3 linked regions of the Homo sapiens genome follow. The protein of the gene in region 3 binds, or shares a complex with, the protein of the main gene of each other region. Each region holds a gene or a part of one and is shown on either strand. Other genes may lie near its edges.

Evidence for each region.
Region 1: the proteins of TNRC6C (region 3) and GIGYF1 are in contact, whole or in part, in a crystal structure (PDB 7RUQ), measured with the Homo sapiens proteins. Residues at the interface, in NP_001136112.2 of Homo sapiens: Arg1719, Pro1720, Pro1721, Pro1722, Gly1723, Leu1724, Thr1725; in NP_001362694.1 of Homo sapiens: Tyr479, Asp481, Pro482, Gln487, Phe490, Trp498, Tyr503, Phe504, Leu508.
Region 2: the proteins of TNRC6C (region 3) and PABPC1 are in contact, whole or in part, in a crystal structure (PDB 2X04), measured with the Homo sapiens proteins. Residues at the interface, in NP_001136112.2 of Homo sapiens: Pro1593, Pro1594, Glu1595, Phe1596, Pro1598, Gly1599, Val1600, Pro1601, Trp1602, Leu1605, Gln1606; in NP_001425211.1 of Homo sapiens: Pro555, Gln556, Lys559, Gln560, Gly563, Glu564, Phe567, Gly579, Lys580, Thr582, Gly583, Met584, Leu586, Glu587.

The regions. Positions count from the first base shown.
Region 1 is NC_000007.14:100,678,752-100,688,056, forward strand, and holds the end of GIGYF1 (GRB10-interacting GYF protein 1), read right to left. Parts: coding exon 9,230-9,305; intron 9,133-9,229; coding exon 9,037-9,132; intron 8,866-9,036; coding exon 8,754-8,865; intron 8,656-8,753; coding exon 8,547-8,655; intron 8,296-8,546; coding exon 8,255-8,295; intron 8,069-8,254; coding exon 7,898-8,068; intron 7,683-7,897; coding exon 7,429-7,682; intron 7,329-7,428; coding exon 7,223-7,328; intron 6,731-7,222; coding exon 6,593-6,730; intron 6,396-6,592; coding exon 6,298-6,395; intron 6,144-6,297; coding exon 5,972-6,143; intron 5,866-5,971; coding exon 5,699-5,865; intron 5,590-5,698; exon of another isoform or gene 5,587-5,589; coding exon 5,486-5,586; intron 5,407-5,485; coding exon 5,269-5,406; intron 5,168-5,268; coding exon 5,067-5,167; intron 4,882-5,066; coding exon 4,799-4,881; intron 4,694-4,798; coding exon 4,553-4,693; intron 4,480-4,552; coding exon 4,261-4,479; intron 4,027-4,260; coding exon 3,839-4,026; intron 3,732-3,838; coding exon 3,571-3,731; and 9 more. Other genes in the region: GNB2 (guanine nucleotide-binding protein G(I)/G(S)/G(T) subunit beta-2), read left to right, coding at 1-50. UniProt on the Homo sapiens protein: May act cooperatively with GRB10 to regulate tyrosine kinase receptor signaling. May increase IGF1 receptor phosphorylation under IGF1 stimulation as well as phosphorylation of IRS1 and SHC1.
Region 2 is NC_000008.11:100,702,989-100,714,049, reverse strand, and holds part of PABPC1 (polyadenylate-binding protein 1), read left to right. Parts: intron 1-868; coding exon 869-963; intron 964-1,260; coding exon 1,261-1,398; intron 1,399-1,592; coding exon 1,593-1,688; intron 1,689-4,318; coding exon 4,319-4,591; intron 4,592-4,826; coding exon 4,827-4,917; intron 4,918-7,052; coding exon 7,053-7,163; intron 7,164-7,244; coding exon 7,245-7,399; intron 7,400-8,376; coding exon 8,377-8,461; intron 8,462-8,993; coding exon 8,994-9,124; intron 9,125-9,659; coding exon 9,660-9,752; 3' UTR 9,753-9,753; exon of another isoform or gene 9,754-10,690; 3' UTR 10,691-11,061. UniProt on the Homo sapiens protein: Binds the poly(A) tail of mRNA, including that of its own transcript, and regulates processes of mRNA metabolism such as pre-mRNA splicing and mRNA stability.
Region 3 is NC_000017.11:78,100,053-78,111,113, reverse strand, and holds the end of TNRC6C (trinucleotide repeat-containing gene 6C protein), read right to left. Parts: intron 8,641-11,061; coding exon 8,570-8,640; intron 7,701-8,569; coding exon 7,561-7,700; intron 6,630-7,560; coding exon 6,269-6,629; 3' UTR 2,292-6,268; downstream 1-2,291. UniProt on the Homo sapiens protein: Plays a role in RNA-mediated gene silencing by micro-RNAs (miRNAs). Required for miRNA-dependent translational repression of complementary mRNAs by argonaute family proteins.

The sequences.
Region 1 (9,305 bases), on a different chromosome or scaffold from region 3:
TGGCTGTGGCCACGGGCTCCTGGGACTCCTTCCTCAAGATCTGGAACTAATGGCCCCACCCCCACTGGGCCCAGGCCAGGAGGGGCCCTGCCCATGCCCACACTACAGGCCAGGGCTGCGGGGCTGGCGCAATCCCAGCCCCCTTCCCCGGGCCACGGGGCCTTGGGTCCCTGCCCTCCCACCCAGGTTTGGTTCCTCCCGGGGCCCCCACTGTGGAGATAAGAAGGGGATGGAATGGGGGAAGAGGAGGAGCAGGAGGCCCTCATCCTTCTGCTGCCCTGGGGTTGGGGCCTCACCCCTCTGGAGGGCCGGAGGCAGGAGGTGGAAACCCCAGGGGCTGGCTTTTTTAAAACTGGTTTTATTTTAATTTTTATTATATTTTCAGTTTTTCCATAAAGGAGCCAATTCCAACTCTGTACCTGGTCTCTGCCCTTGCTGTGTTCTCCTTGTTTCTGGACTTTGTTGCCTGAGGGCTGCTGAGGGGGTGGATGGTGGGGAAGGTATGGGGCCTGCCAGGCAGCTGGGGCTGGGGGTGGGGTCCCCACTCTCCCTCAGAGCAAAGCTGAAGCCCCAGCCCAGAGCCTTCCGTCCAGAGGTTCTCGGATAAGCAGCCCTCACCATGGTTTCCCCCGTCAGGCTGCTGACCAGAGCCAGCCTGACCAGGCGGGCACTGCTCAGAGCTCCTAGTTCCCAGCTCTGTGCAGAGCCACTCATCCCCATGGCTCTCCCCAGATAACGAGCAGTGGAGGCGGAACGGGAGAACACACACCAAGTTTTATTGGGAGAAGGGAGTATTTACAGGAGCAGGTAAAAGAGAGGGAAGTCACACAGGGTGGAGAGGGGGCGGGGAGACTGTGGGTACAAGGCAGACAGGGAACACGGTGACCCCTGCACCCACCCCAACCCCAGGAAGGGCAGGGGAGCAGCGAGGGCCCAGGAAGACCGGGGCCGGGGAAGGACAGCAACAGGGTCTGAGTCCCTGGGCAGGGGGGCTCAGGGGCTTGTAAACATTGACCACTCTCAGAAGGGGATGGGGGTGGGAGAGGGCTCCCCCTATACTTCCTCACAGGGTTAAGGCCTCTCCAGGCTCATGGGCCCCCTAAGTCCAAAGTCTCTTTAGCTGGGGAGAAGAGACAGGAAGAGTGTCCCCCTTCCCCTGCATTGGCTGCGGCAGGGGTGGGGGGGTTACATTCAGTCACAACAGGAGTCTCCCCCACACCTGGCAAGAGGGAAGGGGAGCTGGGGGCCAGCAGCAGCAAACACTCCCCCCGGCCCGTCACCCCTTATTGCTTTAGAGAGAATATTGTCTTTTCAGGGACGCTAACACTGTGGGAACCAGGGAGAGGCAGGTGGGGGCCCCCCACCCCGAGGCCAGCTTGATCCCCCAACACTGACCTAGTTGCCACTTTGGTGCAAAAAAAAAAAAAAAAAAAAAAAAATCCAACAACAGAAAACCAAACACCATCTTTCTGGGACTAGATGGGGAAAGAAACGGGCCACTCCCCATGTCCCCAGGGCAGGAGGGAGAAATACATTCATGGAGGGAGGCAGTGGCGAAGCCTTGCCCTAATACTGCACTCTGAGCAATGAGGTCAATGGGAGGAGCTGGATGAGAAACCCAAAAGACAAAACTGTTACAAAACCCAAAATGGGCGGAGACGAACCCAAGTAGGGGACCGGGAATAAGAAGTGGGTGAGCAATAGAAGGGGCAGCCTCCTCTGACCCAGGAGCCGCACACTTCTCTTCACCCCAACCTTACCCAACGGTAAAAAGCGCATCATATCAGACCCGGAAGGCCACCTGCTCCTCTCCCATTTGGTCAGCGGAAGGGTCAGGTGCAGAGCTGGGTGGTCCACATCTTACGAGCTGGCTACAGGTTGGGGCCCCGGGCGGCAGCCCCTCTACTGCAACCCTAAGCCCAAAGCCACCCACTCCTTGCCTTTGAGGCCCCTCCTCCTGCCCCCTTCACTGGAGAAACAGCTCAGCCTTCTCTCTGCAGCCTCTGGAGCAATCATCCACCCCCGCCGCTCACAGGGGTGAGGCAGCTCAGGCAGGGGTGAGGCGGGGGCTTGTGGCCCAAAGAATACATTCACGTGGCAAGGCAGAGAGCTGGGGCTTTCAGGTTCAAACCCAGGGTGTCCCCCAAAATGGCAGCAGTGGGAGACGCCCCTCACCAGAACCAGAGTCCTGCTGCCCCACCCTGCCAGCCAGAGAGGTTGGCACGGCTTGGCCCCTCCCGTCTACTCGGCCAGCACAAGATGGCAGCCAGAGAGCTGGGGCCACTCGTCCAATTTGTGCAACTGTCCCCCAAAGCAGCGAAGCCAAGGGGCTACTTTGGCCCCACCCCGGACACCTCAGCCAGCCTCAGTGACAGGAGCTGCTCACAACAGGTCTGGCGGGTGGGGCTCAGACAGGCCTCCTGTGCAAACTGCTGGCCCCCAGCTTCCAGTTACCCCATGGCCCGCCTTCTGGGGGGTAAGTATGGCCTTGGGGGCCAGGCAGGACAGGTCCACGGGGCCTGTGTCCCCACTGCCCCAAAATAACAGTGTGTTTTTTCTTTCAGCCTCCTAACCATTTTTTTTTTCATTTTTCATCTTTTTTTCTTAAAAAAAAAAAAAAAACCAAAAAACAAAAACCTCTGTGGACCTTCCATTGTCACACCCACTATCCTCACAGCAGGAAGGGGTGTTTAGAGTCTAGTTTTTAACAATATTTTTGCCTCTCCTAATGTTTTCTTCAGTCGTTTAAAATTAAAAAAAAAAATAAAAAGAAAAACCCCCTCCCCCAGTCTGTAAAGTGCCTCGTGGTGGGTGAGTTAAGGTGCATCGTGTGTTTGTAACAAGTGCTGGGGACCCCGCCCCTGCCTCTTCCTGTGCTCTCTGCGGGGAGCCTGCAGGCTGGGACCCTCGGTCCACGCCGCTGTGGCTGCCCTGGCCTACAGCCCAGGGGCTGGGGGTCCGGGCTGGTCAGTAGTCATCCACGCTCTCGATCTCACCAGAAGATCCGTGCAGGGAGTACCCTGAAGCCGGGGAGAAGCTGCGTCTGAGCTCTCTCCTGGGCTCCTCCTGCCCTGTGCCAAGGAAGTCCCGCTCCTGCCCCAGCCCAGCTCACCCAGGATGCTGGGGTCTGAGTGCAGCATCAGTGCCCGCCTCTTGGCCTTGCTGCCCTCCCCGGGGCCGAGTTTGGTGCTGTGGTTGGCCTGGAAGGCCGTCTGCAGCGAGGCGCTGCTCAGCCATGCCTCCTAAGGCAGCGGAGAGGAGGGTGAAGGTCAGGAGGCACCAGGCAAGCCCACCCCAGCTGCTGGTGCCGGCTGCCTCACCTGCTGCTGCTGCCGCTGCTGGCTGGCTTTCTGCTTGGCCCTCCGCTCCAGGAATTGTTTGGCAAATTCTTTGGCTTCCAGCGTGTCCCCCAGGCAGGAACGGATATAATCGTGGACATCATAGGGGGATTCCACCTCCTTGAGGATCGCTACAGCCATGGGCACTGCAGGATGAGCGAAGGCTGTCAGGGCCCCCTGGCCGGGTCTGGAGACCCAGGTCCCGCCCACCTCCTGGGAGCCGCTCGCCCACCGTCCAGGCTGCCCGTGGCGCTCAGCGTGTGCAGCATCTGCTCGCACCACTGGGTGAAGCCGTCCTGGGGCCTGGGAATGCCCTGCAGCAGCTTCAGCAGCTTCTCTTCTTCCTCCGTCTTTTTGCGAATGGGCCGACCCGATAGGTGGCTGTATGAGTCACTGAAGGGGGAGGGTGAGTCAGGGTTGGAAATCAGCTGGCAGGGGTTGGGGGGGTCTGCCACCTTCCCCCTCAGGGCCATCCCGGAGCCTCCAGGTGCCACGCCCACCTGAGAGATGGGCTGCTCCGGCTGTTCTTCAGGCCGAGGCCACGGACCAGGCTCCCGCCGCTCTTGGGGGTGTCCTCCCAGAGCCCCAGGCCGCTGCTGCCGCCCCCACTCTTGTCTGGCCCGCCCCACAGTGGCCCAGCCTCAGACACCCACTGGTTCAGGGGGGCAGTGCCCAGGCCCCCAAGCTGCTACAGATGGCAGAAGATCAGAGTGGCTCAAACAAAGGCACCCCAGAAAAGCGGATGGGGAGGCTTGTTTAGGTGGCAAAGGGAGACAGGTGAGGTGAGGGCCACAAGAGCTGTTGCCATCACAGGAGAGGCTGGGACTGGGGCTGGGGCTGCACAAGTCTGGGTTCAGTATCCCCCTCCCTGTGCCACCCTGGAAACTGTAGGGGGAGCCCGGGAGGTTCCCGGCCTGCTCACCACTCGGTGGTTGGGGGCCTGGGCCCGAGCTGGCTCCCGAGGTGGGGGCTGTTTGTGCAGCTGCCGCTCGCCCTCCAGCTGCAACTCCAGGAGCGTCTTCATGGACAGCCCCTGCTTGGCCAGGCCAGCCCAGAGTGGGGGCGGGGAGCTGGGTGCGGGGGGCACAGGGACCGCCTGCTGCTGCTGTAGCAACTTCAGCAATAGCTCCTGCTGCCGCACCTAAGAGGGGGACATGGTGAGGGGACCTGGCGAGGGTTGTCCACCCAGCCAGCTGAGGCTTGGGAGCACCCACGTGCTTGCGCCGAAACAGCTCTTCCTCCTCCTGCCGCCGCTTCTGCTCCTCCTGCTGCTGCTGGCGGCGCTTCTCCTCTCGACGCTTGCGTTCCTCTTCCTCCCGCTTCGCCCTGAGCTCCACTTCTCTGCGCTCCTGGAACTGAGACCAGTGGCCCATCAGAGGGGAGAGCTGCAGGGGACAGCCTGGGGCCTGCCTCGGTCCACCCTTCATTCCCAGGGCCTCAGCCCCAGGATGCCCACTCACTTTATGTTGCAGCTGGAGTTGTTCTAGAATTGGACCCTGAGTCGAAGAGTTAATTGGTATGTCCCAAAGACTGGCCTCACCACCTGCAGGGGGCAGGGGGGCAGAGGCGGCTGCAGGTGGGCACTTGGGCCCACTGATCTAGTCCAGCCGCAGCAGTGGGCTCCCCAGCCAGAATGGCAGCTAGGGGCGTGTGGGGGTGGGGAGCAGACCCCAGACCCCATTTCACCCGGAGACTGCCTTGGGGGTGGGGACCAGTCAGGCCACACACCTGACTGTGATGAGGCTGAGGTATGTACGTCCCAGAGGCGGCCCGAATCTGGCACCGACAAGGACCGGCTCATCGTCGGGAGCAGGTTCTGGTCCCCGCCTCTGAGGAGCAAATTGTGGATTCTTAGGACCCCAAATCCATCTCTGGTCTGCCCCCATCCCCCCCCCACCCTGTATCCTGAGGGCTCGCACGCACCACGCACCTGGGGGGTTTGAGCGCCTGGAGCTGCTGCAGGAATGCCGTGAGCTGCTGCTGCTGCTGCTGTGGCGGCGGCGGTGGTGGCGGTGTCAGGTCCCCCAGAGCTGCCTTTTCTCGGAGCGCGCACTGTGGGAGCTGGCGGCTGCAAATGGGACAGTGGAGATGGTGGGCCACAGAGCCAGCGCCGGGCCTTCTCCCAGCCCACCCCAGGCCCCCCATACCTGCTGACCAGCTGGAGAAACTGCTGGTGCTGCAGCTGCTGGTACAAGGCCGCCGCGGCCAGCTCCTGTTGCTTCTTCAGCCGCTCCTGGTCCATGTTTCCCTGCTCAGGTGAGAGCTCGGCCAGTGCCCCCAGCAGGGAGGAGGGGACTCTGCTGGACTCCTGCCGGCACCCCTCACACCCTGTCCCTCCATGCAGGGGAGAAGCGGCTCACCAGCAGTGGGGGAGGTGAGGGCCCTGGGGCAAAGGGCACGCGGCCCCACATCTTGATCACCTCGCCCAGCGGCTGGAAGCCCTCATCGCAGCCCCGCTTCACCAGCAGTGACATGGAAAAGTAGCCGGCCTGGAACCACTCTGCCATCTCCTGTGTCGTGAAGGGGCCTGGACAGGGAGCGAGGGAGCGGGAGAACCACTGGGGTCACAGGGTATGCCAGAGACACCCTGAACCAGAACGGCCTTGAGCAGCCCTCCCATCCCACACAGGTACCTTGGATCTCGCCCTGTGGGTCCTTGTAGAACCACTTCCGGGCAGCCCCATGGCTGAGCGGGAGGGCAGTGGCGGCTGCAGAGTGGCGCAGGCCCTGGGTCTGCATGGCAGCCGTGAACTGCTCCTCCTCCAAGGAGCTGTCCTGCAGGGAGGCCACCAGCTTCTCCGCCTCCTGGATGCCCAGAAAAAGAAGAAAGGCTCAGCTGCCAATCTCAGCAACATCAGGATGGGGATGGGGATGGAGCTTGAGCTGGGGCCGGGGCTGGGGCCAAGCAGGTCAGGTCAGAAGTGGGAAGGGTCCCTCCCGCTTTCTCAGGCCCCCACACCTGCTGCAGGTGCTTCAAGCCTTCATCATCCTCCAGATCTCCGGGTGGGCCAGCAGAGGAGCCCACCCCGGGACTCAGCTGGATCCCCCGAATATCATCTGGAAGGCATGAGATAGGAGGTGGAAAGAAGGGCGGGGAGGAGACAAGATAGCTTTCGCCTACTCTCACTCCAGAACACCACGCTCTTGCCATGGCTCCTCAATGTGAATGCCCTGTGTGCCCACCCCCACGAGTGGGGAGCACTTTCTCCCACAGCCCCAGCGCACCCGGGAGGTAGGCCATCCTCCCTTCCTACCTTCGGCCGCTGGGGGCTCTTTCTCTGCAGTTTCGTCCCCATCCCCGTTTGTCCCCCAGAGTGGGCCCAGGGTGGGCAGTGGGGATGGGGAGCTGGACTTCTCCTCCTGAGGAGGCAGTGGGGTCAGCTCTTTCCCACCTAGAAGAGGGAGATGGCCAGAGTTCAGAACCAAGGGCTGGGCCTGCCACGCGAGTTAGCACAAGCCCTTGAGTGTGGCTGGAACCGCGGGTCACACTCCCTTAGGCCGAGTCCACCACTTCACTTGGGTCAACTCAACTAATGGCAGAGGGAATGCGGTGCCCTGACCCTCGCCTCCACGCTGCCAGACGCGGCAGGAACATATCACAACATCGCACAACACCACACAACACCGCAGACGTCACTCCAGGTTCTACAGCTTCTTCAAGGGACTTTCAAAGGTCATTTTGATTACGCCTGATTTCTATCTGGTACACTGCCTTGAAGACATGGCTCTGCTACCCCCTGGTTCCTCCCCACCTCTCAGCACTCTTCTTCCAGATCTAAGTAGCCTGATTCTACAGGTAGGTGGGCAGCCAATGCCCAGCCCGGCAAAGAACACCAGTGCCTGCCCGGCCCAGCCCCAGGCCCGCTGGGCACCCCGCGGCTCACCTGCCTCAGGCCCTTCCTCCTCTAGCCCTTCGGAAGGTTCCTCCTCCTCCTCCAACCCTTGGAAGTCCAGCTCCTGCTCCTCAGGAATGGGCTCCTTGGGGCCCTTCTGCATGGGGCCGGGGTGGGGAGCAGAGAACAGCTGGGGTGGGTGGGGAGGAAGAGGACCCCGGAAGGGCAGGTTCCCACCCTCGCCTCCTCACAGATACCTTGAGAGGCAAGAAGGCCCCAGAGGCATCAAAGGTGCCCATTTCTTCATCCTCATCGTCCAGGCACCACTCTGGGAGCCCATCCTTGTCCTCCTCAAAGCCTTCAGGCGCTCGGCACCGCCGCAGGTGAGAGCTGCCTCCCCCTCCCCGCCCCTCCTCTTCACCACACCCTCCTCGATCCCCTCGCAAATCAAATTCAAACTTGCGCCGCCGTTCCCCATGTTCCCGCCAGCCAGCAGAGCGGGGACCACCATCTGCACAGGAAAAGTCAGGGAGAAGAAGAGTGGGTACCCAAGCGAAGCCAGCGGCCCCCTCTGCTGCAGCTCACGGAGCACCTCCAGGGCTGCTGTCCCGGCCACTCCCACACCAGCCAGCCTCTGCTCCCTCCCCGTGGCTACAGGAGCCCACCCTCTCATTACAGTTCCTGCTCCCCACTGCCCCCGCCAATGCTACCAGGCCCCAATCTCACCAGGGCTGGCGGAGCGCCAGCGGTCGCCGTCTCGCCGGGGCCCTGCTCCGAGCCTCCAGCTGCCCTCCTCCTCCTCCTCCTGTTCCTCCCGTAGGGAGCGCCAGTTCTCGCTGTCTGAGCGGGCGTGCTCCTTCCTTGGGCCAGCCCCTCCCTCCTCAAAGCCACATCGTGCTGGGAGACGGGAAGACAGGGGCAGTTATTAGAAAGGCAGCGTGGTGCCTGGACCCTCAAGAAACGTTGGGGGGGCCAGCTCCAGGCCCTCCTGCCCCCAACACCTCCGAAATAAGCACCCCCAGACTGGGCCACCCATCTTGGTCCTCCCTGCCGCCCCGGCCGCCGCCCTCAGCAGCCTCGTACCTCCATCCCGCCTTGCTGACTTCTCAAACCGCCTCTCGCCTCTGCAGCAGGGGAAACGTGTGGGTCAGAAACAGTACAGCCTCCCCTGCCACCCTGTGCAACCGCCCCATGCCTTGTCCACTGTGCCCTGAGGCAGTGGAGGGAGGAAGGGGACAAACGAAACCAGGGGTCAGGAGCACCGGGATCTCGGACAGGGCTTATCTGGTGGGCCTCTGTTACCCTCTAGCGACAGGGCCCAGGCCTCCCCTCCCTGGCCTGCCCGGCTCTGCGCCATGCCCCCTCCCCGCCCCACCTGTCATCCCAGCTCTGGCTGCGCTGGATTTCCCGGGGGCTTCGTCCAAAGGCCCCATCGCCTTCTTCGATGCTTCTTTGGTAAAAGCAGCTGTCACCACGGCCGCGGCCTAGAGAAGAGGCCAGACGCACAATGAAACCTGCTGCACGTTCTCGAAGTCAGGGGCCCAGATCTGCCCGTCCCCAGGACACGCCATCACCCCTCTACCTCGGCTCCGCGTGCTGCCCCTGCCTCGGGAGGTGCCAGCCAGGGGGGGGCCAGCCCCTTTCCCCATCAGCCTCAGCACAGCCACGCTGTTCACTGACAGGGAGAAGTTTCTCTGAGGAGGGAGCCAGGGGCGGGAGTGAGGACCCAGGCACCCAACCACCTCCACCCCCACCCCACAGCACCCTCCCCGCCTGTCTCCTCAGCGCTGGCCCCTCTCCTCCTAACCCAACCCATGGCCTCCCCTCCCAGGCTCCCGCAGCCTCAGCTCCTGGCCCGGTCCCACCTGTTCCTCCTCAGTCAGCGGCTCCAGAGCCAGGGGCTGCAGTGGCTCGTCCTGCAGCACCGCGGCGAACTCCTTGTCCTGCAGCTCTTCCGGGACCTGGCAGTGGGTTGGGACAGCCAAGACACCACATGCTGCCAGATCCCCTCCACAGGCAGAGGCCACCACCGCCAACCCCCCTCGCCCACGCACCCACCTTGTTCTCCTTGACGTAGAGAGCCAGCATTTCCTCTCGCCCATAACGGTAGTCAGCCAGCTTGTATTTGGGCATG
Region 2 (11,061 bases), on a different chromosome or scaffold from region 3:
GATACCACCCGCCTCAGTTACCTGTCTCTCCTACTTTAGAGGGAGTTAGGGGAAAACATGTCTTCAGAAATAAATGCTTCCTCTTCCAGGTAGTTCACCTGTGTCTTTAAAAAGAATTTTTTTTCCCTGTCTTTCAAATTCCTGTATTACCTATGTCTTACCAAAGAGTCCAACTATGTATTCCTTCCACTCCTGTTGAAAGTCGGGTAGGCCAAGGCTTAATAAATACTTGTTTCTTAATTGATACAAAGAAAATCAAATTGGTCTTAGCACAATAGCTCATGCCTGTAACCCTAGCGCTTGGGGAGGTCAAAGAGGGAAGATACTTGAAGCCACAAGTTTTAGACTAGCCCGGGCAACATAGCAAGACCCTATCTCTACAAAAAATAAATTAGCCAGGCATGGTGGTATGTGGGCCAGTAGTCCCAGATACTTGGTAAGTTGAGGCAGGAGGATCACTTGAGCCCAGGAGTTGAGTTAAAGTGAGCTTATTCATTGTGCTGCTACACTTCAGCCTGGGCAATGGAATGATATACTGTCTCTATAGAAAAGGGAAAAAATCAAATTATTGGGTAAAAAATGCAACTCTTTTGTGCTAGAGCTGAGAATAAAACTTTTTACAGCCGTTTAAAGTGTACCTCCTTAAATGGAAGGAGGAATCCTTCAGGGGAGGGAAGGTGTTTACCTTCTTAATAATAAAAGGTCTTTCAATGGAAAAGTATACCTACCTGGGGCATAGAAGGCTGGGAGGGAGGAGTCAAGTTACGGAGCTTTGAAATTTTTTTCATGGCTTTGTATGTTGAAATTTGAAATGTATAACGTGAATGTTGTATGGAATATCTTTGATTTATGTAAAAAAATTTTTTAGGGCCTGCCTTAAGTGTGAAAGTAATGACTGATGAAAGTGGAAAATCCAAAGGATTTGGATTTGTAAGCTTTGAAAGGCATGAAGATGCACAGAAAGTAAGTGGTCTGTATTCAGCAGGAAGAAGGGGGTACAAAGTTGAGTTGCTCTTGTGTTGAAGTCTATGTGCATACTAATAGCTATTTGACATGTTCTTATATTTTCAGTTATTTGCATTTTATGCATTAGGTTTGAGAGTATAAATTGGTAACCTATATTGTCCCAAAACCTTGAGATTTTGGGATGGGTTTGTCTTTAGCTTTTGTGACTTAACAAATTTGTCTTAACTGTTAAGGAAATGAACTGTAAGTTGAAAGTTTTGTGATTTTTTTTTTTTCTTTTTTTTTGGGGGGAAGGCTGTGGATGAGATGAACGGAAAGGAGCTCAATGGAAAACAAATTTATGTTGGTCGAGCTCAGAAAAAGGTGGAACGGCAGACGGAACTTAAGCGCAAATTTGAACAGATGAAACAAGATAGGATCACCAGATACCAGGTTCATTTTTAATTGAACAACCAAAATAAGACAGGGATGAGGAAACCTATTTTACGTTGATTTCAGTTACTTCCAGGTAGCTGGAGGGTTTGAGAGGGGAATAGGAGAAGAAATATGGGGTAAAATAATAGACCCGATGTACTTAGGTACCACCATGGTTTTCTTTTTCTATAGTTTTCTTTTCTTCTTTTTAGGGTGTTAATCTTTATGTGAAAAATCTTGATGATGGTATTGATGATGAACGTCTCCGGAAAGAGTTTTCTCCATTTGGTACAATCACTAGTGCAAAGGTAAGAAAACATATGGTTCATTTATTTGAGGTCTAGTAAAAATTCATACATGTAGATATATGTATATAAATTTTGTATTATTATAGCCACTAGAGAGGTGTTTGCTTCGTTACTTCTAAAACTTAAATTCACATTTGAACTGGTTGTCATAGCCTAATGGTTAACTTAAAAATGGCAAGCACTGAACTCTTTGCTAAGGAAGGCTGATATCCTCACATGATATGCACTATTCCAACAACTAGTCATTTTGCTAAAGCAAGCAATTTATTAGGGACTTATAATTGTTACTATAGTTCTGATCTGTTTATTCATTTCTACAATTCATTCTGGGTAGTCAAGCCCCAGTTCCCTCCCCTGCCCCCTAGCAGTAAGAATAGAGATCATATTTTCTTTTATTTGAAATCAGAGATTAAGAAACAAAGCAGTAGTATTCTAGTACAAATTCTGAAATCTTGATTTAAGAAGTTCTCTTCTAGATGTTTTTGTCTAGCATCCGTGGGCCAAGAGTCCCCCTATATGCAAGGTTTTGTGCATACATAATTTTGCTGGGGTTGGGGAAGAGTGCATAGAAAAAAATTACAACTCAACTGAACTGGAATGACGCTGTGGCTGATCTTTCTAGTCAGCTTTTCCTGGCAAGTCCGAGGAAGCTTCTGTGAGAGTGAGGAAATGTTAGGGGAAAGGTGGTTGAATACAAGTAAGATGGAAGTGCCATGGTTGTCTTGTGTTTCAGATTATGCTTTTTATGTAAGAGTATTGGAGTACGATAGAATTTATTCCTGAATGTTTTTGTCTTCAGTGTGTTCCCTGGATATTGTTTAAATTGAGTGTTGTGCATCAGCATATTTTGAATGTATGAAGCATGCATGTTTTTCTGTTTCTTGAGACAGGATCTCATTATGTTGCCCAGGTTGGAGTGCAGGGGCATGCCACAATCACAGCTCACTGCAGCCTCAGCCTTTCCTGGGCTTAAGCCAAGCTTGTCCAACCCGCTGCTTGCAGGCCACATGCGGCCCAAGAATGCTTTTAATGCAGTGCAACACAAATTCTTAAACTTATGAGGTGTTTTTTTTTTGTCTTTTTTAAAGACGAGTCTCACTCTCGCCTGGGCTGGAGTGCGGTGGTGCAATCTCAGCTCACTGCAGCCTCCGCCTCCCGGGTTCAAGCGATTCTCCTGCCTCAGCCTCCTGGGTAGCTGGGATTACAGGCATGTGCCACTACGCCCAGCTAATTTTTGGTATTTTTAGTAGAGATGGGGTTTCACCATGTTGGCCAAGCTGGTCTTCCAACTCCTGACCTCAGGTGACCTCCTAAAGTGTTGGGATTACAGGCGTGAGCCACCGTGCCTGGCTGGTTGTCTGTCTTTTTATTGATTAAGGGAACATTTGTTTTATTTTTTTGAGATGGAGTGAAGTGGTGTGATCTCAGTTCACTGCAACTTCCACCCCCTGGGTTCAAGCAGTTTTCCTGTCTCAGCTTCCCGAGTAGCTGGGATTATATGCACCTGCCACCATGCCCGGCTAATTTTTGTATTTTTAGTAAAGACGGGGTTTCGCCACGTTGGCCAGGCTGGTCTCGAACTCCTGACTTCAGGTGATCCACCCGCCTTGGCCTCCCAAAGTGCTAGGATTACAGGCGTGAGCCACCGCGCCCGGCCAAACATTTGTTTTATATTGGAAATATTTTCTTCGAATTTTCCACTTTATAGACCTCACTTTGTGTGTGTGTCATCTTAGAAAGGTTTTCTCTCTATTTCTACATTCTATGTTCAGATTCAGAATCTACCTGGCATTTAAGATTTTTCAATGTAATGTGAATTAAGAGTTCTACATTTTTTCATTTGTCCCAGTGTGTCATGTATTGAGTAGCCCAAAGTCCTTTTTCCCCAGTACTTTAAAATGTTAACTTTAGCACAGTGAATTCCCATAATTGCTTGGGTATATTTCTGGCCTCTGTTTTATTACCGTTTGTTCCTATGCCACTCGCATACTGTTAATGTAGTTTTATAGCATGCTTATATATATTGCTGGCCTAGCGAGTGGTTCTTTGCAAGTCTTCATTGCTCATTTAAAAGGTCTTTGCAATCAATTTTAGAAGAACCTTCCTCTTGAGTGTTCTTTATACCGTAATATTTATGGATCCTCTGCTCTTGAATGTAAAAACTTTTATTTTAAGATGTGGGTATTGTAAGATTCAACTACTTTTTTCTCAAAGGCATAGTGAAGCATCTTGTCAGCTTGAATTGTTAGAATAGTCAAAATTTAATTGGGAAATGCTTCCAGTGGTGCCCAAAAGTCAATTTAGTAGGCCTGGGATGTATTTATTTAGATAATTAAATTTCAATATTGAAAATCCAATCAAATTCAGTATCTAAAATCTTTAAAAGTTTCTGTGCAGCCTTCACTTCTGTCAGTTCTCTGACCTGGCTAGGGTAATGCATATGTGTAGTTTGCCCTTAATAATTGGGTATTAAGGAAAAATTGTGAACTCAATGGGTAAATACAAGATGATTAAGCATTAACAGGGTTTAGTTATTTGATTCAGTGATTTATAATTGTCTAAATTGTAACGCTCTTTTTTTGCTCCTCATTCTACCATTACGTTAACTTTTTTTTTCTTTTTTTTAATAGGTTATGATGGAGGGTGGTCGCAGCAAAGGGTTTGGTTTTGTATGTTTCTCCTCCCCAGAAGAAGCCACTAAAGCAGTTACAGAAATGAACGGTAGAATTGTGGCCACAAAGCCATTGTATGTAGCTTTAGCTCAGCGCAAAGAAGAGCGCCAGGCTCACCTCACTAACCAGTATATGCAGAGAATGGCAAGTGTACGAGCTGTTCCCAACCCTGTAATCAACCCCTACCAGCCAGCACCTCCTTCAGGTTACTTCATGGCAGCTATCCCACAGGTAGGTTTTAGAAGGCAACCAGAACCATGAAGGTTTTCGTATTTGGTCATTTCTAGTGTTTTTTGTGCCCCTCGCCCCGCAAATGTGAAACATTAAGAAAGGGGAATTATGATTGAGTAGGAAAAAATGCTTGAGTGTGAAGTCCTGGTAAATGTTTTGAAAAAGTACATATAATTTATTGCATTATTTGCTTTTTTCTTCAACTGATAAACTCATGTGCTTTTTTTCCCTGCAGACTCAGAACCGTGCTGCATACTATCCTCCTAGCCAAATTGCTCAACTAAGACCAAGTCCTCGCTGGACTGCTCAGGGTGCCAGACCTCATCGTAAGTCTTTTTTCTTTTAATTAAGGTTGGGGATTGAGTTAAAAATAACACATTGGGTAAATCAGCTCTTCTATGTCAATGTTAGGTTAACTATTGCATTTCACATAATTTGTGGTTATGGATGTTCATTTTTATAGCATTTAAAAGCAGTGCTAAGATAGTAATGTCTACAGTGGTTTGATTTCCCTTTATAAAAGTTTTGGGAATAGGTACAGCTCTTCATTTTTTATTTATTTATTTATTTATTTATTTTCGAGACAGAGTCTCGCTCTGTTGCCCCAGGCTCGAGTGCAGTGGCTCAGTTTCGGCTCACTGCAACCTCCACCTCCCAGGTTCAAGCGATTTCTCCCTGCCTCAGCCTCTGGAGTAGCTGGGATTACAGGTGCCCGCCACCACGCCCAGCTAACTTACGCATTATTAGTAGAGATGGGGTTTGACCACGTTGGCCAGGGTTGTCTTGAGCTCCTGATCTCAGGTCATCTGCCCACCTCAGCCTCCTAAAGTGTTGAGAGTACAGGCGTGAGCCATGGCACCCAGCCAATTTCATATTTTGTCAGGCCACAGTTTTAAAGGTCTCGTTCCATTTAATCATGTATGAGAATCAGAGTCGTGGTATTTTATGTCTTGTCCTGTGGAACAGTATGTTATATTCCAAGAGCACTTAGAGTTTATTTTTTTAGACAGAGTCTCACTCTTTCTTCTAGTCTGGAGTGCAGTGGCATGGTCTTGGCTTACTGCAGCTTTCACCTCCCGGGTTCAGGTGATCCTCCTGCCTCAGCCTCCCAAGTAGCTGGGACTACAGGCACACGCCACCACGCCCAGCTAATTTTTTAAATTTTTTGTAGAGACGGGATTTTGCCCTGTTGGCCAGGCTGGGAGCACTTAGAATTTTATCATGATTATGTTTCAGGTATATTTATAAGTGTGGGCGGCAAACCACCCAGGTGCCAAGGCAAGAGACCGAGGACACGAGCTGTTCCAATATAATAAAATATAAAATAAGAATAGTTATACCAGATATAGATCTTAGATATGATTATATATGAATATCATTAATCATTAGTTTGTAGCAATTACTCTTTATTCCAATATCATAATAATCCTCACTCTATAATCATAACCTAGGAAAAACCAGGCCATACAGAGATAGGAGCTGAGGGGACATAGTGAGAAGTGACCAGAAGACAAGAGTGCGAGCCTTCTGTTATGCCCAGACAGGGCCACCAAAGGGCTCCTTGGTCTAGTGGTAACGCCAGCGTCTGGGAAGACGCCCGTTGCCAGGCGGACCGAGGTCTAGCAGTAGCGTAAGTGTCAAAGGAAAACACCCACTATTTAGCAGACCGGGAAAGGGAGTCTGCTTTTCCCCTGGGGAGTTTAGAGAAGACTGCTCCTCCACCTCTTGTGGAGGGCCTGACATCAGTCAGGCTTGCCTGCAATTATCCAGAGGCCTAACCGTCTCCCTATGGTGCTGTGCTTCAGTGGTCACGCTCCTAGTCTGCCTTCATGTTCCATCCTGTACACCTGGCTCTGCCTTCTAGATAGCAGTAGTAAATTAGTGAAAGTACTAAAAGTCTCTAATATGCAGAAACAATGGCGTAAGCTGTCTTTCTCTCTGTCTCCTCTCCCTCTCTGCCTCGGCTGCCAGGCGGGGAAGGGCCCCCTCTCCAGTGGACACGTAACCCACGTGACCTTACCTATCATTGGAGATGACTCACACTCTTTACCCTGCCCCTTGTGTTTTGTTTCCAATAAATAACAGTGCAGCCAGACATTCAGGGCCACTACTGGTCTCCGCGTCTTGGTGGTAGTGGTCCCCCGTGCCCAGCTGTCTTTTTTTTTTAAATCTCTGTGTCTCGTGTCTTTATTTCTGCACTCTCTCGTCGCTGCATACAGGGAGAAGCCCACCGACCCTGTGGGGCTGGTCGCTACATATAAGTACTCGTCCTTGTATGAATTAATGTTTTTACTTATTGATGCTCTGAGTCTGGGAAAATGGCAAGTGTTAAGACTCAGCTTTAAAAAGTTTTGTCACTTTTTAGTCTTTTATGCAAACCTCAGATCGAAGAAGACAGCATAAACACTTTTCACTCAGTAAGTTTTCCCAGTTAATGTATATTCACATCTTTAAAATGCAGCATTCCAAAATATGCCCGGTGCTATCCGCCCAGCTGCTCCTAGACCACCATTTAGTACTATGAGACCAGCTTCTTCACAGGTTCCACGAGTCATGTCAACACAGCGTGTTGGTGAGTCTTAATCCTTCCTTTAAAAATTGATCACCAATTTGAAAGAGCAAGATAAAAATACAAAATGTTCTTATTTTTTAGCTAACACATCAACACAGACAATGGGTCCACGTCCTGCAGCTGCAGCCGCTGCAGCTACTCCTGCTGTCCGCACCGTTCCACAGTATAAATATGCTGCAGGAGTTCGCAATCCTCAGCAACATCTTAATGCACAGCCACAAGTTACAATGCAACAGGTATGGATTTAATGATTTCTTAATAAAAATCACATTTCTTGGGTGAAATCAAAGGTGTGAAGACAGCTGGGCACAGTGGCTCACACCTATAACCCCAGCACTTTGGGAGGTTGAGGCAGGCAGATTGCTTGAGACCAGGAGTTTGGGACCAGCCTGGGCAACATACAGGACCCTGTCTCCACAAAGAAAACTAGCTGGGTGTGGTGGCATAAGCCTGTAGTCCTAGCTGCTAGGAAGGCTGAGGCAGGAGGATTGCTCGAGCCCAGGAGTTTAAGGCTGCAGCAAGCTGTAATCCCTGCTGGGTGACAGCAAGACTCTGTCTCAAAAGAAAAAATGTGAAGACAGCTGCATGATAGATTCTTGAGAGCTTAGCCTATCTGGAACATTCTGCTAATATGATAGTATGTAAAATGTCTTACGCTTTTGGAATTGGACAAGCAGCGAGAAATTCACATCCTAAATCACCACGCCTGGTCTGAAACAACTATTACAAGTAGCTATGGGCCAGGCGTGGTGGCTCACACCTCTATGTAATCCCAGCACTTCAGGAGGCCAAGGCAGGTGGATCACTTGAGGTCAGGAGTTTGAGACCAGCCTGGTCAACAGGGTGAAACCCCAGCTCTAAAAATATAAAGATTAGCCAGGCTTGGTGGCACATGCCTGTAATCCCAGCTACTGGGGAGGCTGAGGCAGGAAAGTTGCTTGAATCCGGAGGCGGAGGTTGCAGCGAGCCAAGATTGTGCCGTTGCATTCCAGCCTGGGCGACAAAGTGAGACTCCATCTCAAAAAGAAAAAAAATGTATCTGTGATACATAGTATATAATAACTACTTTGGCTTCTTTCTAATTCGCTCACTCAACTTCTCCACCTCATGTTTCGATGGAAGTCTACCACTTCAGCAGATGTCCATTGATGACTATTTGTATTTGCCATCTTTTTCTGTGCTTTAAACTTAAGAGTTCTCATTTTCTGTCTAGCCTGCTGTTCATGTACAAGGTCAGGAACCTTTGACTGCTTCCATGTTGGCATCTGCCCCTCCTCAAGAGCAAAAGCAAATGTTGGGTGAGTACTTCTGTCCCACCTTGTCAGTTCAGAAAGACTAGAAAATATAGGAATCACTTAGGCACTAGGTCAATCAATTGACAGCTAGGGCAGTGGAATTGATCTGAATTGGCATGAATGATTATGATAGTACAGTTGGTCTGCCTAATTAAAACCACTGGAAAGCCAATAAGAAAATGTATTGTTAGTAATAAATAGGGTAGTAGGGCATTACTCACCATGGGCCCTCACTACATTTTTGAGAGAAGGAATTTGAAGCAAATGAGAAGAAAACTTGTGACTTTGCCTGAACACCGATTTAACAACCTAATGGTAACATTGCTTAATTGGCAAGCTGATAATATCAAGAGTTAATTGCCTTGTGGCAGATTTTATTCTGTCTTCCCATGAAGACATAATGAAATTGTGGATTATGGGTTATTATATACGTGAGACAGAAGTATGGTTCTTAAACCCCAGTTTAATGTGGTAATTCAATGCAGTTAAAAACTTTTTTTTATTGAAGGGAGTTTTTGAATGTTTCTGTTCCTAGGTGAACGGCTGTTTCCTCTTATTCAAGCCATGCACCCTACTCTTGCTGGTAAAATCACTGGCATGTTGTTGGAGATTGATAATTCAGAACTTCTTCATATGCTCGAGTCTCCAGAGTCACTCCGTTCTAAGGTGATTTAAATTTATTTACCAAGTTGCCTCTTACACAGTTATTACGTGGCTTTTTATGGGGACTTAATTGTACAGAACACTTACATCGTGTTATATATAAGCCATGTACAGTTGTAAAGTCTGCATAATAACCTGTGGCGCTATTTATCCCCATTTTATAGATAGGTAAACTGAAACAGGCTGAATAATTTGCCAAATGCTCACACAGCTCTTAAGTGGCAGAGCCTGGCTTCAAATCCCATCAGCTCCAACAGCCATACTCTCAACTGCTGCTGCTTTCTCTAGTGGAGAAAGAGAAATATTTTTCGAGTGTGGGGAGGACAAGGAAAGAGTAGTGCAGGGGAGCGATTCATAATTCTAGAATAGTGGTGTAATAGAACTCAAAATTGAATGGATATAGTTGTTTAGTGTAACAATTTATACTTTCATTTGAGGGAAGAAACTTATCTTTGTTGGGAATTGGTATGTTACCATTATGAAACTCTTTATTTCCATTCCTTTCCTGAACCAGTTTATCTGTTTTCCCCTTTTTTAGGTTGATGAAGCTGTAGCTGTACTACAAGCCCACCAAGCTAAAGAGGCTGCCCAGAAAGCAGTTAACAGTGCCACCGGTGTTCCAACTGTTTAAAGTGAGCTTTTCCCTCTGGTTTGTTGTTTTAAGCTTGTTTTCTTCATCTTTTATAAAGTTTGTTGAGCATATTTTGAAATGTACATAGCAAAAGATCATTTTACAGTTCATTTAAATGTATTGCTAATTTTTCAAGGAAAAGTGGAACTAACTATAGAGGAATTAAAGGAATTTTACCCGTTAACTGTTGGATTTTTAAAATCCCAGGACTTTCAGGTGGTGTTTTTTTTTTTTTTTTTTTTTGAGATGGAGTTTCGTTCTGTCGCCCAACCTGGAGTGCATTGACGCGATCTCGGCTCACTGCAACCTCCACCTCCCAGGTTCAAGCAATTCTCCTGCCTCGGCCTCCCGAGCAGCTGGGATTAACAGGCCCATGCCTGCCACCGTGCCCAGCTAATTTTTGTATTTTTACTAGACTTGGGGTTTTGCCATGTTGGCCAGGCTGGTCTGGAACTTCTGACCTCAAGTGATCCGCCCACCTCGGCCTCCCAAAGTCTTGAAATTACAGGCGTGAGCCACTGCGCCCTGCCAGATTTTGTATAGTAATATATATATAAAATGACCTGTCACAGGTTGGCTTTCATAGTTTTACCTTTCCTTTTTGGGTGGTGCCCTTGGGTCTCTACTACTGTCTTTCATCACTCCCAAGAAATTGAGTAGTGCAGCCAGGATCAGGACCAGGGATTGGCAAATGTTTTTTGTAAAGGGCCAGATAGGAAATATTTTGGGCTTTGAGGACTGTGTTATCTCTGAAATGATCTTGTTCCAGTGTTACCATGTCAAGACAACCATAGATAGTATGTATACAAATGAACAGGTATGGCTGTGTTCCAGTAAAACTATGGATAAAAACAACCACATTGCATTTGGCTAAGGGCTTTAATTTGCTACTGACAAGTGATAGTCCTGGTCTTAATTTGTTTTTTTAACATTTACAGATTGATCAGGGACCATGAAAAGAAACTTGTGCTTCACCGAAGAAAAATATCTAAACATCGAAAAACTTAAATATTATGGAAAAAAAACATTGCAAAATATAAAATAAATAAAAAAAGGAAAGGAAACTTTGAACCTTATGTACCGAGCAAATGCCAGGTCTAGCAAACATAATGCTAGTCCTAGATTACTTATTGATTTAAAAACAAAAAAACACAAAAAAATAGTAAAATATAAAAACAAATTAATGTTTTATAGACCCTGGGAAAAAGAATTTTCAGCAAAGTACAAAAATTTAAAGCATTCCTTTCTTTAATTTTGTAATTCTTTACTGTGGAATAGCTCAGAATGTCAGTTCTGTTTTAAGTAACAG
Region 3 (11,061 bases):
CCTTGAGAATGTGGGTGGGCCTCATCCTATCAGCTGAAAGCTTTAAGAGCAAAACCCGAGGTGTCCCAGAGAGGGAATTCTGCCTTGAGACGGCGGCTTCCCACTCCCACTGGATGTCCAGCCCGCGGCCCCACGGCTGGGTGAGCCCGTCCTCTCCTCGTTTCTGTCTCCGGACCCACCGTGTGGCCCCAGACCCTCCAGTGAGGACCTCCCGTATTTCTTCAGAGCAGCCCTTGCGTGCTGGAGGCCTGGGCTTCAGTGTGTCCCTGGGTGCCCTGGGGCATGTTCTGTGACCTCCCAGCTCCTCGCCTCATGGGGCCGCTGTATCAAGTGACACAGTTTGTGTGCTGCGTACCATGCCTGGCACCCATTTGAGGTGTTGCAAGGAGGCCATGTTTGCTCGATGAGAGCAGCCTAAGATCTACAAACTGTTGTTCGAGTGGATGGGAACTTGATGCTATTTTCAGGCTGAATGACAAGACTCCGCGATGCTTCTCGGCCTGGGCTGCACAACGGAATCTACCAGGGAGGTTTTAAAAACACTGGTACTTGCTGGAGGTGGTGGCGCCTGTCTGTAATTGCAGCTGCTCCAGAGGCTGAGGCGGAGGATTGCTTGAGCCCAAGAGTTTCGGTTTATTTGCTTTTTCAGAGTCTTGCTCTTGCCCAGGCTGGAGTGCAGTTCCATGATCTCGGCTCACTGCCTCAGCCTCCCAAGTAGCTGGGATTACAGGTGCATACAACCAGGCCTGGCTGATCTTCGTATTTTTAGTAGAGATGGGGTTTCACCATGATGGTCAGGCTGGTCAAGATCTCCTGACCTCAAGTGATCTGCCCGCCTCGGCCTCCCAAAGTGCTGGGATTACAGACATGAACCACAACACCTGCCGAGCCCAGGTGTTTTGAATCCAGCACGGGCAATGGCAAGACCCTGTCCCAACAAACAAAAAAACACTGGTGCCTGAGGCCCACCCCGAGAGATTCTGATTGAGTTGATTTGGATTTGAATTATCTTTAAAATTTTGGATGTGAATTTTTTTTTTTTTTCTTGGAATGGAGTTTCACTCTTGTTCCCCAGGCTGGAGTGCAACGGGACGATCTTGGCTCACCGCAACCTCCGCCTACTGGGTTCAAGCCATTCTCCTGCCTCAGCTTCCCAAGTAGCTGGGATTACAGGCATGTGCTACCATGCCCAGCTAATTTTGTATTTTTAGTAGAGACAGGGTTTCTCCATGTTGCTCAGGCTGGTCTTGAACTCCTGACCTCAGGTGATCCGCCCGCCTCGGACTCCCAAAGTGCTGGGATTACAGGCATGAGCCACCATGCCTGGCCGGATGTGAATTATCTTAAAAATTTTCAGGTAATTCTAATGGGCCAAGGTTGAGAACCCCTGCTCTGGGCCCATCCGAGCACCAGGCTGTCACAAACGCATGCATGCACTCACGCCCGTGGGCTTGGGGGGCTTCGGAAATGTGCTTCTGCTTTTTTGAGATGGGGTCTTTCTGTTGCCCATCCCGGAGCACAGTGGCACGATCACAGCTCACTGCAGCCTCGACCTCCTGGGCTCAGGTGATCCTCCCGCCTCAGCCTCCTGAGTGTCTGCTTCTGGTTTTCATGATGACCTGGGGCCCAGGCATACTACACTTGTGCTGTTCAGGGGCCAGTCCTGCACCAGGAGCCCATCAGCCACAGCTCCGCCGAGAAGCACTGATATGCAGAGCTAAGCAGCTTTGTTTCCACGTGGATCCTGCGTAGGTTTTCTTGGTCCATCCGTAGACACCGCACTCCTGCAGAGGATCTTCTCGGGATGCCCCACTGTCTCTGTTTTCCCTCTTCACTGAACACTCAGTCGGGGCTCGCCATGATGCCTCTGTGTCTGCTGGCTTCTCCCCCATTGGAACAGCCTTCTTGGCACGCCACACTGCTAGCTGCTGGGCACTGTGCTTTCTGCCTTTACCGTTCTGCCGTGATGTTGCCAAAATAGCAGCAACAACAACAACAACAAAGGCTGGGCACCTGGCTCATGCCTGTATTCCCAGCAGTTCGAGATCAGCCTGGGCAACATGGTGAGACCCTATCTCTACAAAAATAAAAAATGAAATGAGCTGGGTGGGGTGGCGCATGCATGCCTGTGGTCCCAGCTACTTGGGAGGCTGAGGTCGGAAGATCGCTGGAGCTTAACCTTGAGGTCAAGGTTGCAGTGAGCCGAGATTACATCACTGCACTCCAGCGTGGGAGACAGAGACCCTGTATTAACAAACAAAAACACAAACCACAAAGGGCAGGTCTGAAACTGCCATTTAAAAAAAAATTTAATAAACTTAAAAAAATATATATCCACAGATGCAGGTGAAGAACCTGTTGTCTTCCTCAAGCCTCTTTTTCACCCATGGGTGGAAATGGTGCCCTGGACACCCAGGCCCACGAGGTCTTTGCGTGGGGTCCCTACACAGGGCTTTAGCTTACACTGTGCTGCCCTCCTGTCCCCCGAGTTCCCAGTCTGTCAAAATCCAACCTGGTCTCCCAGGCCCAGGGCAAATGCCACCTCCTCCATGAAGCCTGCCACATCCTTTGCACACCCTTGGGCGCTGACCTTGTTCTCCCAGCGCACAGGCACGGGTACAGTTTGCCCCTGTAGTAGTAACTCAGGCACAAAACGAACTCTTGCTGAGGCTCGGCCGCGCAGAGCTGAGGGTTGCCGCTTCCAGGTTCAAGTGCATTTTGAGTTTCATTCCCAGCTTCCTTCTTTTTCTGGTCTTTAATTTCTTCTCCGGATTAGGTCCCACTCAATGCTTTCCTTCTCAATTTCCAAAAGAGTATGGTCAGAGCCAGCAGCACACCACCTTCCCCATGGGTGGGGGGGGGCCAGCCTGTGGCGGGGGTGCGGGTCCCATCTTTTCGAAGGAATTGACCCACAGTGGGCGGGTCCACCTTTGACCTTGCCCCAGGGAGCGCAGACAGAAAAAAGATCCTTGCTTAGTTTGAGGGGCCGCTGGGGTGCTCGGTTTGTCTTCAGAGGCCTGTCTGTAACACCAATGCCAACCCGGTGGCACTGACTGGTCACCCTGAAGGCCACGGCCAGTGTCCTAGGAAGGGACTCAATTTCTAGCTGTGCCACCTGAGATTCTGGGGTTAGGCTGGTTGTGCTTCTGAAGTTCCACTGTGCTCAAAGTGCTTGGTGAAAGTTAGCGAAGGTGATTTTACAAAAATAGATGCATAAAATGTCTAGGAAACACAAAAAATCCTCATTACTCTTCTCTCCAAATATTTTTTAAGCCCCAACTGGACCCTAGGCAAAAGTGAGTGGCACTCCTCTGCCAGGACTCCAGGCAAGCCCCGGCATCTTCTTGCTGCCGTCCCAGACAACAGAAGTTACCAGATGAACAGACTTGGATGGGCCACGGGGGTGGAGAGCTGGAAAGCTTGGCTGTGCCTCTCGATGATGATTAAGATTTCAATATTTACAGCAAAACCACAAAGCAAATGATAGAATAAAGCAAAACAATGGAAAATCTGAGTTCACTCGTGAGAGAGGTACGTATGTGAGCTCTGAGGAAATTACAGAGGGAACGCATGCAGCGGGACAGCTCTCCCAATCGCAGCGTGCAAAGTAGACATCCATAGTGTCTTTTGAAAAATGAAAAACACATTACTTTGAACAGCCAAGAAAAAAATTGCAATTTATTAAGATTCAATAAAGCGTTGTACTTTCGAAAGCAACTTTCGATGCATGTTCTTCAACAGTCACATTCTATGAGGAAAACATTAAGAGCCACGAACTTGTTGTTTAATCTCAGAGTTACAGACATATTAAGTTCAAAATAAAAGGTAAAAAAAACAAAAAACAAACAAACAAAAAACCCCTCAAACCCAACAAAACCCAAAAACAAACAAACATATTCTTGACTTCCATCCCCAATTTTAAAACAACAGTTTTTCTACAACTCAATGCTCGCCGGCAGCACGGGAAGTGGTATGTCGGACGCACATACGCACACGCATGCTCACACGCACACATATTGGATATACATACGCAGGTGTATGTCCATCGAATATATAGAACGCATGTAATGGCAATGAGATGCAGTCACTCTGAGGAAGGTTGGTTTTTCTAAATATCCTACTAAACTTGAGAAAAAAAGTCTTGAACCCAGTTTGTGCATAGTTCATGATCCTCTATAAAACCAGCTTTTGTGGATCTGCAGTCTTGCAGGACTTTTTTTTTTTTTTTTGTATTTTTTTTGTTTTGATAAAACCATTAAAAAGCTAATTAAAAAAATGTAATGCACAAGTTTCCTGATCAAGCAGGCAGGGAGCACAATGTTCATATATATATTTTTTAAAACATACTTGAAGGTATGTTATTCCATTGTCTTTCTTCCTTGCAAAACAATCAAAACATTGATCATTTTTAAAACATAAAGCAATTTTTAATATATAAAGCACTCTTCAAACATCTATTTCTTTTGAGTCCATTATTTGGTAAATATGTAACTGCTACACATTAGAGATTAGGTATTTTTCTTCTTTGTGTTTTTTTTTCCTCTTTTTCTTTTTTTTCATTTTTTTGTTTTGTTTTGTTTTTTTTTTTTTTAAATAACATCTTCAGTGCTAGGAGTTGGGTTTAAAAATACATGAAATGGTGTGGAGCTGCCCTCGGGAGCCCTGGCTTTCCTGAGAGCGCGTCCGGCATGTGCAAGACAGTGGCCACAACGCCTGTCACCTTGACGAAGGGGCGAAAGCAATCGACAGAGTCCACGACGATGGCCGAGGGAACAACACTGTCCCGTCCCAGAGCTCTGAAGGAACGCATCTGCATTCTGAAAATAGGTTTCTTTACGACGGAAGTCTTTTTTTTTTTTTAATTCCTTTTTAAATTTTTAAAATTTTAAAGTCTGAAGGAGAAAAAAAGGTCTGTAAACAGGTGGGAGCCCAAACCCCAGGCTCCCCCAAAAGCAGTCACAACCCACGCCCAAGTGCTTGTTTCTGTTCCTTCCACGGAACCATCCATTCTTTACAAGTATCTATGGCCACAGTTCAACAACAGTTTTTTTTTTTTTTCTCTTTAACTTTATATTCCAAATGGAAAAATGGTGCAATACTCTGGTAATAATTTTCTTGCATTAGTCCACAATAAAAAGCTGCTAAAGGTAGGTATACATGTTATTTCTCCAGAGATATACACTGTACTTTTTAAACGCAGTCACAGAGTCCTTGAGTAAACATTTACACATGAATTGTCGCCAGCCCTGTCCTAGGAATTCTCTGTAATGTATAGGATTAGCTAAAGGAAGGGCGAGGACACTCAGTGCAAAGTTAGAAGCTAATAATAACAACCGTTTGACCAATGCGCCAAAAAAAAAGCGTATACTGAATACAAGGGAAAACCCACAGTTAAATCCTCACACGCTTTCAAACACACAAACACAGAAAACTGCACGCCGTGCAGGAGCACGCGCCACACATGCACACACACACACACTTCTGTTTCAACACGCACACATACACACACGTAGGCTATGAACTTAGAAATTTTTCCTAGAGCCTGTTTCTGTGTACTGATGTCAACCTGGAAGTGTAGAATTAGAAAGTGTTCACATTTCACTATTGGCCTGCTGGATTCAAGTATTTGCATGTTTGATATGTCTTTTTTTAACTTTTAAAAAATATTTTTTGGGATAAAAAAATGACATGAAAAAGTAATGAAACAAGGGTAATGTGCATAGGCGGATCCAGGGGAACAGAGAGCAGATCGCAGCCCGCGCCTTCCGCTCAGCTCCCGCCGCGGAGCCGCTCTGCGCCCGGCGGTCCACACCAGACTCTGCCCTGATTACCGGCCGCCTCTGGTCATGTGCATAATCGTCACAGGCTCATTTTAAATAGGCTTCACGTCTCCCTCCCTCCCCCACAGATAAAATAACCCTTTCCAGCCCACAATCTGAAAAGTGCCCTTCATGATAGAACTATTCTAAGCAGCTTTTATACTTAAAAAAAAAAAAAAAATCAAAATGACAACACACTATACAAACATAAGACGCACAAAATAAAAAGCTACGAGGAACATCCTGTCATTAGCATGTGACGCTGACCCACCGCAGCCCGCACTGTTTTGCGAACAGTTCGCAAGGACTGCGGCCAAGGTTCGTCTTCAGTCCTGGACAGAGGTACTCAAAAGGGCGGCCGCTGCTGGGTTCCAGCGGGTCTGTGGGGCCGCCCAGCCGGGAGGGGTCCCGGGAGGGGTCGGCTCTCCTGGTGCTGATGATGGCAGAGCCTACAGGGACTCCCCGCTGAGCAGGTCCCCAGGCAGCAGGGTGGTTAGCGGCGTGGGGCTGCCTATCACCCTGCTGTCGTCGGCGCTGGGCGGGCCCCACAGGCTGCTGGAGTACTGGGGCACCCCGCCCCACAGCAGCTCACTGCTCCCCTTGCCACCCAGGCACGGGGCGTTCCAGTGGCCAGCGTCGCTGCGTACCAGGCCATGGGAGCTGCCCGCTGCGCTGAGCCGCGGCTGGCTGGACGCGCTGCTGGACTGCCAGCTGGAAGTGGGTGGCAGCGCCTGGCCTTGGGCTAAGAAGCGATTCACTTCTTCTTCACCAGCGAACTCGGCCAGGATGGTAGTGTTTCCCAGGACGCACCTGCAACAGCAAGATGGGGCACGTGAACAGGGCCACCCCAAGTCCTGCTGAGTTCGTGGCACTGGCTTTCTCTGTATTGGGAACGGCCCCACATGGAAGCCATCCTGTGGCTTCTGTTTTGCCACTGCTATTTCCAAACCCAGACTGTGAATGTTTTGCTCAGTTCAGACTTCTAGTGGCAACATCGTACTGGTACACAGAGTACATCTTCAAGTGCGTGAACAGATCATTAAATGTGGGCTCGTTTAGGGTCAGTGTCATTTGCATCCTGGGCTAAAAACAGGAATGACTAATTTCTAGGTTCCAACGTCTCAAGTGATGTTACTGATCAGGTCTACTCGTACTTCTATCAAAAGCAACCTTTCACTAGGGTGAAGGGTTGGCTGTGAGGACCACTGCTGGGCCCTGTGTAGGAATGTGTCACAGGGAGGGAGTAGACACAGCAACTCAGCAGCAGAAAAAAACCAGTAAGTCCCAAGATACCTGTGAGGAACTGACCTGTGTCGCCTTTCCCCAATTCCTTTGTTGAAGTCCTAACACCCAGTACCTCCCCATGTGACTACGTTTGGAGATGGGGTCTTTAAGGCGGGAATTAAGTTAGTTAGATGAGGTCACATGGGTAGGCCCTAGTCCAACAGGACTGGTGTCCTTATAAGGAGAGATTACGGCACAGACATGCACAAAGAGACGACCATATAAGAACAGAGGGAGAAGGCAGCTGTCTACAGCCAAGGAGAGAGGCCTCAGGAGAAACCAGCCCTGCCCACACCTTCATCTTGGGTATCAGACTTCCAGCCTCCAGAAGTGGGAGGGTGGCCAGCCTGTGGGATTCTGCTATGGTGGCTCAGGACACCCCTGCAACACCCCTAACCTAATGCTCTGGGGGATGGGGAGCTACTTGGAGCGCTGAGGTGGCTGTGAGAAAACATACATGTGCAGAGACTTCTGGGCCTTGGCAGCCTCCTCCTTGGAGCTGTACCGGACCACAGCATTGCCTTGAGTCAGATTCAGGTGGAATGTGATAAGAGGCCCATGTTGCAAACACAATGTCCGCAGTGTAGAACCATCAATCTGATAGAGGAAGCACAGGGACATGAATGAGCTTTCTTCTGATTTCTTTCACTACAGCCTTCCAAAGAAAAAACGTATGAAATTGGATACACTAAACACTAGGAATGTTTTTCTTTAAAAGGCCTAATAATATGTGGTTTTACAACATTAACGTTTTATATCTCTGTGGCCAAACGTGTAACTAAAAACTTGGATGCTTCAGTTACATTTTATAAGTTAGGCTAATCAGAGGAAGGAGAAAAACCCCATTTTGAATTCTGCTCTCCTTTCACCAGAGCACGTCGCACAGAGCCTCTGGTTTGCAAAAGGCACCTGGGTCCAGCTGCTGACAACAGACTTGGGAGACGTGCAGGTGGGTGTGGCCTGGGTCCCGGGAAGGGACTGGCTAGCCCCACAGTCTGATGTGGCCAAACGACTCTTTTAAAAAATGTTATAAAAATACACACATGGGGTCTTGCTATGTTGCCCAGGCTGGTCTCCAACTCTTGGGCTCAGGTGATCCCTGGCCTCGGCCTCCCAAAGTGCTGGGATTACAGGCATGAGCTACTGCGCCCAGCCAGGCCCAACCACTCTTGAATGGCTAGTTGTAAAATAAACAATTCTATTTACAGAGCACACTTTTCCAGCCTCTGGTGGGGAAACAAACAATTCACCAGGAACATGGTTAAAAGAGGCCCCTGGGCCCCATCTGCTGCCGCTGCTGGAGCCAATCCTGGCACTTGCTCATCTCCTCCCATGCAGCGTCACTTATGGACCCTGACCAAGAACCCCCAACTATCCTGCCCCACCAGACAGCCTCATCTGCATTGGGGGCCAAGCGGGAACCCTCCCTGGATCATGCTCAGTGATGCAGGGGCACCATATTGCACCTGGGGAGTGAGGTTTCGAAGAACGAGCCAGCTGCTGGTTCTTCCTGAGGTGTCGGTGCTCCAGGCAGAACCTGCAACAAGAGGGGAGAACCTGGTTGACAAGGCCCCGTGCCAGTGGATAGTGCGGCCCTCCCCACTTCTTATTGTGCTGAAGTGTGGGACAGCACAGGCCGTCACTGCGTGCTTTAGGAAAGCCTTTCTCAGCCTGGGAGGCCCATGCTATCTTTGGTAAACCAAAACCTCACAGTCCCTGCAGACCCCCTTCCCACTTCCCCGTGGTGACTCTGACTTTTTGGATCTTCCCACCAGCCCGGGAGGCCTGTGTTTTCCCATCTGTGCCAGGAGAGACGGGGGTGATGAGGCCCGAGAATCTCCAGGGAAGCTCTGCTCTCCACCTCTGCCTGTCCCCAGACCCGGTGTGGAATCAGTGCTCCCAGGTTCTTCTGGTTAATACAACAGAGCAAATCCCTGAAGGCTGCCGCTAAAAGGCAGAAACCATTACTTTCCAACTATCTGATACGGTTTGGCTGTGTCCCCATCCAAATCTCATCTTGAATTGTAACTCCCGTGATTCCCACCCCCACCCCAAAATCTGGCCATTAAACTGGCCCCAAAACTGGCCATAAAAAAAACTCTCTGCAGCACTGTGACATGTTCATGATGGCCATGACGCCCATGCTGGAAGGTTGTGGGTGTACCGGAATGAGGGCAAGGAACACCAGGCCCACCCAGGGCGGAAGACTGCTTAAAGGCGTTCTTAAACCACAAACAGTAGCACGAGCGATCTGTGCCTTAAGGATATGCTCCTGTTGCAGATAACTAGCCAAACCCATCCCTTTATCTCCCATAAGGGATACTTGTAGTTAATCTAGTATCTACGGAAACAATGCTAATGACTGACTTGCTGTTAATAAATACGTGGGTAAATCTCTGTTTAGGGCTCTCAGCTCTGAAGGCTGTGAGACCCCCGATTTCCCACTTCACACCGCTCTATTTCTGTGTGTGTGTCTTTAATTCCTCTAGTGCCTCTGGGTTAGGGTCTCCCTGATCAAGCTGGTCTTGGCACGGAAGCAACTTTGGAACTGGGTAACAGGCAGAGGTTGGAACTCAAGGCTCAGAAATAGACGGGAGAATGTGGGAAAGTTTGGAACTTCCTAGAGACTTGTGAAATGGCTTTGACAAATTGCTGATAAGGATATGGACAATAAAGTCCAGGCTGCAGCGGTCTCAGATGGAAATGAGGAACTTGTTGGGAACTGGGGCAAAGGTGGCTCTTGTTGTTTTAGCAAAGAGACTGGCGGCATTTTGCCCCTGCCCTAGAGATTTGTGGAGCTTTCAACTTGAGAGGGATGATTGAGGGTATCTGGCAGAAGAAATTTCTAAGCAGCAAAGCCTTCAAGAGGTGACTTGGGTGCTGCTAAAAGCATTCCGTTTTATAAGGAAAGTCGAACATGAAAGTTCAGAAAATTGGCCAGGCACGGTGGCTCACGCCTGTAATCCCAGCATTTTGGGAGGCTGAGATGGGTGGATTACGGGAGGTCAGGAGTTTGAGACCAGCCTGGCCAACATGGGGAAACCCCATCTCTACTAAAAATACAAAAATTAGCTGGGCATGGTGGCAGGCACCTGTAGTCCCAGCTACTCGGGAGGCTGAGACAGGAGAATCACTTGAACCTGGGAGGCAGAGGTTGCAGTGAGCCGAGATCACGCCACTGTACTCCGGCCTGGGTGACAAGAGTGAAACTCCATCTCAAAAAAAAAAAAAAAAAAAAAAGGAAATCCCATTTTCTGAGGAAAAATTCAAGCTGGGTGCAGAAATTTGCCTAAGTAACGAGGAGCTGCATGTTAATCCCTAAGACAATGGGGAAAATGGAGACTGTCTCTAGAGCATGTCAGAGGTCTTCAGAGAAGCCCCTCCCATCACAGGCCCAGAGGCCTACAAGGAAAAAATGGCTTCATGGGCCAGGCCCAGGGTCCACATGCTGTGTGCAGTTTAGGAATTTGGTGCCTTGTGTCCCAGCCGCTCCAGTTGTGACTGAAAGGGGCCAAGGTACAGTTTGGGCCATGGCTTCAGAGGGAGCAATCTCCAAGCCTTGGCAGCTTCCACGTGGTGTTGAGACTCTGGGTGCACAGAAGTGAAGAACTGAGGTTTGGGAACCTCCACCTAGATTTCAGAGGATATACGGAAATGCCTGGATGTTCAGACAATACTTTGCTGTGGGGCAGGGCTCTCATGGACAACCTCTGCTAGGGCAGTGTGGAAGGGAAATGTGGGGTTGGAGCCCCCACACAAAGTCCCTACTGGGGCACCACCTAGTAGAGCTATGAGAAGAAGGTCACCGTCCTCTAGACCCCAGAATGGTAGATCCACTGACAGCTTGCACCGTGTGCCTGGAAAAGCTGCAGACAATACCAGCCCGTGAAGACAGCCAAGAGGGAGGCTGTACCCTGCAGAGCTGCCCAAGACCATGGTAACCAACCTCTTGCCTAAG